Regions from separate parts of the Homo sapiens genome. Here region 2 is linked to region 1. Evidence: fine-mapped expression QTL. A gene starts in region 1. The other region holds a variant in brackets. All regions are shown on one strand. Distances are from middle to middle. Region 1 holds the start of TMEM45B (transmembrane protein 45B). Region 2 overlaps TMEM45B (transmembrane protein 45B).

Region 1 (2,908 bases):
TGAGCAACAGCAAAATTTATTGCAAAGAGCGAAACAACAAAACCCCAACACCATCGAAGGGGACCCAAACGCAGCTGCCGCTGGCTCGGATGGCCAGCTTTTATTCCCTCATTGGCCCCGCCCACATCCTCCTGATTGGTCCTGCCCACATCCTCCTGATTGGTCCATTTTACAGAGCGCTGATTGGTCCATTTTACAGAGTGCTGATTGGTCCATTTTACAGAGTGCTGATTGGTCCGTTTTTACAGAGTGCTGATTGATGTGTTTACAAACCTTTAGCTAGACATAGAGCATTGATTGGTGCATTTACAATCCTTTGGCTAGAGAGAAAAGTTCTCCAAGTCCCCACCAATTAGCTGGACACAGAGCACTGATTGGTGCATTTTTACAGAGTGCTGATTGGTGTGTTTACAAACCTTTAGCTAGACACAGAGTGCAGATTGATGCTTTTACAATCCTTTAGCTAGACAGAAAAGTTCTCCAAGTCCCCATCCGACCCAGAAGCCCAGCGGGTTTCACCTCTCAGTAGCTTACAGAAGAGGACCCTGCTGCCACAGCACAATACCACAAAGAAAGTCATGCTCTCCTCAGCAGGTAGCCCCCTTCTCCGGGACAGGAACTTTGTTTCCTTCTTAGCTCTATCGCCAGCACCTAGAACAGTGCCCACCTGTCAGATCTGTTATCAGATGGGAACATGGCAGATTTGTTGAATGAATGAAGGAATGAATGAACTATGTGACACTCAAACTTAGCCACCAAACTTAAACTAAAAAAACTGGGTTGTGGTCCCTGATGGACCGTTGGCACCTTCTTCCTTTGCTGGACGGTGATCCGTGGCTGTTTCTGCGGTGTGTTCGCAGTGGTTGCCTGGCTTGGTAACAAACACTCTTCGGAGCCACAGCCTGTTCTCAGGGTCCTCGCCGCCTCCCAGGCCCTGCGATCTCTTTGCATCTCAGGAGGTCCAGGTTGGTTGCAGTCCTCTTGGGTGACTCAGGAACCAGCCTCTCCTGAAGCACACAGCTTAGGGAGTTCCTGAGGCCAGAGACATCTCCACGGGAAAGTCAAAGGCCTGGAGGAAGTGCGGACCTGACGACAGATGCCCCGCACGCTGGCCGGGACCGGGAAGGGCGGTCAAGGGTGGAAAGGGGCTGGCGGCTGCCAGGCCTGGCGGAGTGGAGCGGGGCGGGGCGCAGCGGGGCGGGGCGGGCCTGGAGCTGCACCTGCTTCTGGGCGGACGCACTTGGCGCGCGGCGCGGGCTGCAGACGGCTGCGAGGCGCTGGGCACAGGTCAGACGTCCGTACCCGCAGGGGGCTCGAACCTGGAGGAGGGCTCGAAGGGAGAGGGGGCCCCGCCAAGGAGCGGGGCTGTGATGGAGAGGAGGTTCCGACTCGCAGGGGACCTGCGGGGGAGGGGACGCGGACAGGGAGGGGCTCTGGGACAGGGGTGAAGGCTGCGCTAGGGGAGGACGGGAGGGGATGGAGGGCCCTGGTGTCGCGGAAGCCCAGCTGGGGCCCCCTCCGGGCTGCGGAACCGGTGCGCACACTACTCCCACCGCCCCCGAGTGCCTCTGTCCGGCTGGCCGCGGCCCTGGAACGAATATTGCTCAGTCCCCCGCGAGTCAGGTCTGCCGCGTTGCCCGGTGAGGGGAAGGTGTGAAGCCCCGGGCCTCCGTCTGCCCGGTGAGTCCGGGGACGCGCGCCCCCGGGGATGCCATCTGGCTCCTGGGCTGTGACCAGTCACAGCTCACATAGCTCTGGGCACTGGTACCGACTGCCTTTCCTTGTTAGCTGCGATACACAAATACACGAGCCAGATCCTTTCCTGAGGCCAGGAAGCCTGGAATCTAATAACACCGGGCGGTGGATAAAGTCCCCCGAGCCAGTGCTTAGCTTCCGTTAATGGAGCCATGGATGGAAGCGGATGTCAGGCGCAGTGGGGGAGAAATTTGCGGGGGTGGCCCTGTCTAGGGCCAGAGAAACAACCTCTGAAGCTTTGATCCAGCCCTAGAGGGAAGAAAGATGTGAGTTTCAGCCAGGGAAACGTAGCACTTTAAGAAATAGAAACCCTTTCAAAATTTGAGGGCAGGTAGCTCTCCTAAAAGTTGCAGAAATGGCCACTTCTTTTTTTTTTTTTTTTTTTTTTTGAGACGGAGTCTCGCTCTGTCGCCCAGGCTGGAGTGCAGTGGCGCAATCTCGGATCACTGCAAGCTCCACCTCCCGGGTTCACACCATTCTCCTGCCTCAGCCTCCCGAGTAGCTAGGACTACTGGCGCCCGCCACCACGCCCGGCTAATTTTTTGTATTTTTTTTTTTTTTGGTAGAGACGGGGTTTCACCGTGTTAGCCAGGATGGTCTCGATCTCCTGACCTCATGATCCACCCGCCTCAGCCTCCCAAAGTGCTGGGATTACAGGCGTGAACCACCGCGCCCAGCTAGAAATGGCCACTTCTTTCACGTTCTCTTCGACCGCTTTCTGCGGTGTCTGCCCTTTTCCTCCTCCTGCACCTTTTTGTCTCCTAGGGTCGCATAGCCTTCCAAACAGGCCTGCCTACAGCATTTTACCTGCAATTTTACACTCATTTTAATAGAAAGGATGGCTTATTGTTCATGAGAGACGTGTACTGTTTTTAACCAGATGTGTAATATCTTCAGTATAACCTGGATGTTGTGCAGTGGGAAGTTATGGAAAGAATCAGGACACGTGGTTAGGTAGGGGCCCAGGGGCGTCAGACTTAGCTCTTTGTGACAGTGAGCTTCTTGGTTTAATAAGGATATTGGCTCCCTCTGTTCCTGGGGTTTCTGGGAAAAGATATGGAACTGATATGAAGGTTTTATTGAATATGGCCCACTGATTTTACAAGTGGAGGTGACTGAGATAAGCAGAAGGTGAGGCATGACCTCTGGCTGT
Region 2 (2,908 bases), 35 kb after region 1:
CCCAACCTGCACCTGGTCCTGCTTGAGCCACAGCTAGGGTGACGGAGGAATGCTCTGCTGGAAATGTGGGGAGCAGAGACCTGAGGTGGCCCTAGGCAGTGATCTCTGAGACCCCGCAGGCGCCTGGGCCCTTCCCCTGAAACTGTTCTGCCGCAAGGCTCTAACCCTCTGGGCCTCTAATGAGCAAGGCAGCCCCAAATGCCTTTGGGGTCATTCTCCGAAATGGCTTTGGAGTCATTTTCCGAAATGACTTTGGGGTCATTTTCCCGTTCTCTTGATAACTAGCACCTGGCTTCCTTCTACACATACTAACCTGCTTATCAGTCCTGTGGCCATACCCGTGGTTTTCTCTCCTACACACACGTTTTTCTCTTTTTCATGGCTAGGCTGAGAATTTTTCAGATATTGACCTTTAGCTTTCCTTTTGATGGTAAATTCTGCCTTCAAATTATTTCTCTTTTCTCACGTTTTTTTTTTTGTTGATGTTGTTGTTGTTTTTGAGATGGAGTTTTGCTTTTGTCACCCAGGCTGGAGTGCAATGGCGCGATCTCGGCTCACTGCAACCTCCCTCTCCCGGGTTCAAGCGATTCTCCTGCCTCAGTCTCCCGAGTAGCTGGGACTACAGGCTCCTGCCACCGCGCCCGGCTAATTTTTTTATGTTTAGTAGAGACAGGGTTTCACCATGTTTGTCAGGCTTATCTCGAACTCCTGACCTCAGGTGATCTGCCTGCCTCGCCCTCCCAAAGTGCTGGGATTACAGGCGTGAGCCACCGCACCTGGCCTCTCATGTTTTTCTATAAGCAGTTAAGAGAAGCCACACAGCATCCTGAACACTTTGCTTTCTATCTCTTCTGCCAAATATCCTAGGTCATCATTCTTAAGTTCTGCCCTCCATGAAGTCCTAGGAAACGACATAATTCAGGTAAGTTCTTTACCACTTTCTAACAAGGATAACCTTTCTTCTAGTTTCCAATACCTTGTTCTTTATTTCTGTCTGAGACCTCATCAGAATTGCCTTCACCATCGGTATCTCTATCAACATTCTGTTCATGACCACTTAGGCAATCTCTAAGAACGAGGCTTTCCCCACAGCTCATATCCCACATCTACAGCTCTCCTCTTCTTCTGAGCCCTCACCAGAATCATCCTTAGTGCTCCGTTCATGGCAATCCAGGCTTTTTTCAGCACTCACTTCAAAGCTGTTCCAGCTTGTATTCATTATCCAGTTCCAAAGCCACCCCCACATTTTTACATATTTGTTATAACCCCTGGTTATAAATGTTATAAACTCCTCTGGTACCA[A/G]TTTCTGTCTTAGTCCCTGTTGTGCTGATATCACACAATACGCAGACTGGGTAATTTATAAAGAACAACAATTTATTTCTCACTGTTCTGAAAGCTGGGAAGTCCAAGATCAAGGCAGCAGCATCTGGTGTCTGCTGAGGGCTGCATCCTCACATGCAGGAGGACAAACAGGGGACCAGCTCCCTCCAGCCAACCCCTGTATGAGGGAGGGCATCTGCTCCTAGTTCAGGAGGGAGGGGCCCTCATGGCCTAGTCCCTTCTTAAAAGTCCTCTTCTCGGCCGGGTGTGGTGGCTCACACCTGTAATCCCAGCACTTTGGGAGGCCGAGGTGGGCAGATCACCTAAGGTCAGGAGTTCGAGAAAAGCCTGGCCAACATGGTGAAACCCCGTCTCTACTAAAAATATAAAAATTAGCCAGGCGTGGTGGCGGGTGCCTGTAATTCCAGCTACTCGGGAGGCTGAGGCAGGAGAATCGCTTGAACCTGGGAGGCAGAGGTTGTAGTGAGCCAAGATCGTGCCACTGCACTCCAGCCTGGGTGACAGAGTGAAACTCTGCCTCAAAAAAAAAAAAAAAGTCCCCTTCTCTTAATGCTATCACCTTGGCAACACCTGGATTTTGGAGGGGACACATTCAAACCACAGCAATCACCAACAACTGGTATTTTTCTCCCACCCTACATATTCTTTAGGTAACCACCCAGGCCAGTGGGGAAAATAATCAATCTACTTCTGAATAAATCCTAGCTATAGTTTCATGCTACTGCAAATGGGATAACAGCAAATCATGCCTGAAAATTTTTGGAATAAGGTGATGTTTACATCGTTATGCTGATTTTTACAAACTGTGAATCATATTGACCAGGTTCATTTGTACTAGACCACCACACCAAAACTTTATAAAATTATTTTCCAGTTGGGTGAAAAATGATGTTGTGCTTTCGTTTGCCCATCTCTAATTTCCGGGAGATTTATAATTTGTTTGTATTATTTTGTGAATCATCCGTTCATGTCTTCTGCCTATTCTTCTACGGTCTTTTTCTTATCAATTTGTAAAGACTCTAATGTAATAGCCAACTGCTACAAGCATGTTTCTGATTTGTTGTTTACCTTTTGATGTTCTTGATATTAAAAGATGCTTATATAGCTGAACGTTTTTCTTTTCTAGTTCCCCCCTTTATGTTTATGGCTTGGAAGTTTTCTCTATCTGAGATCAATAAATATTACCTATCCTCCTCTTTCCCCACCCTCATCCTTTTATTTTACCCACATGTTTAAAGCATTACAGACAGTGGAGTCCAGTTGGTTATGCAACTCACTTTACAGATGAGACTTCAGTGACGTAACATAAGGCTTGTTTTATGAGAATGTGTTGATCCTTCTTAACGTGGCTTATGATTTGCAATCTCAGGCACGTATTGTGTTTCCTGCCAAAATATACATTTGTTTGCTTGCTTCATTAGCCACCTAACAGCCTTCCCCTAATTTTTTAGGTGTCCTGATGGCAAATTTCAAGGGCCACGCGCTTCCAGGGAGTTTCTTCCTGATCATTGGGCTGTGTTGGTCAGTGAAGTACCCGCTGAAGTACTTTAGCCACACGCGGAAGAAC

The links. PIP is the estimated chance that this variant, and not a neighbour inherited with it, causes the effect.
Region 2: its variant is the best candidate, but not a certain one, in a credible set for the expression of TMEM45B in whole blood (INTERVAL, PIP 0.77).

Annotation. Positions count from the first base shown.
Region 1 is chr11:129,814,612-129,817,519 of GRCh38, forward strand. TMEM45B (transmembrane protein 45B) reads left to right here and starts at 1,237. Exons shown (of 6, transcript NM_138788.5): 1 at 1,237-1,287. It overlaps LOC124902793 (a long non-coding RNA gene), which reads right to left and starts at 76. Exons shown (of 2, transcript XR_007062952.1): 1 at 1-76.
Region 2 is chr11:129,849,683-129,852,590 of GRCh38, forward strand. TMEM45B (transmembrane protein 45B) reads left to right here. Exons shown (of 6, transcript NM_138788.5): 2 at 2,793-2,908. The coding sequence starts at 2,801. Among named protein-coding and RNA genes, the nearest start is that of TMEM45B, 35 kb to the left of the region's middle. The variant A/G (reference allele first, on the strand shown) is at 1,303.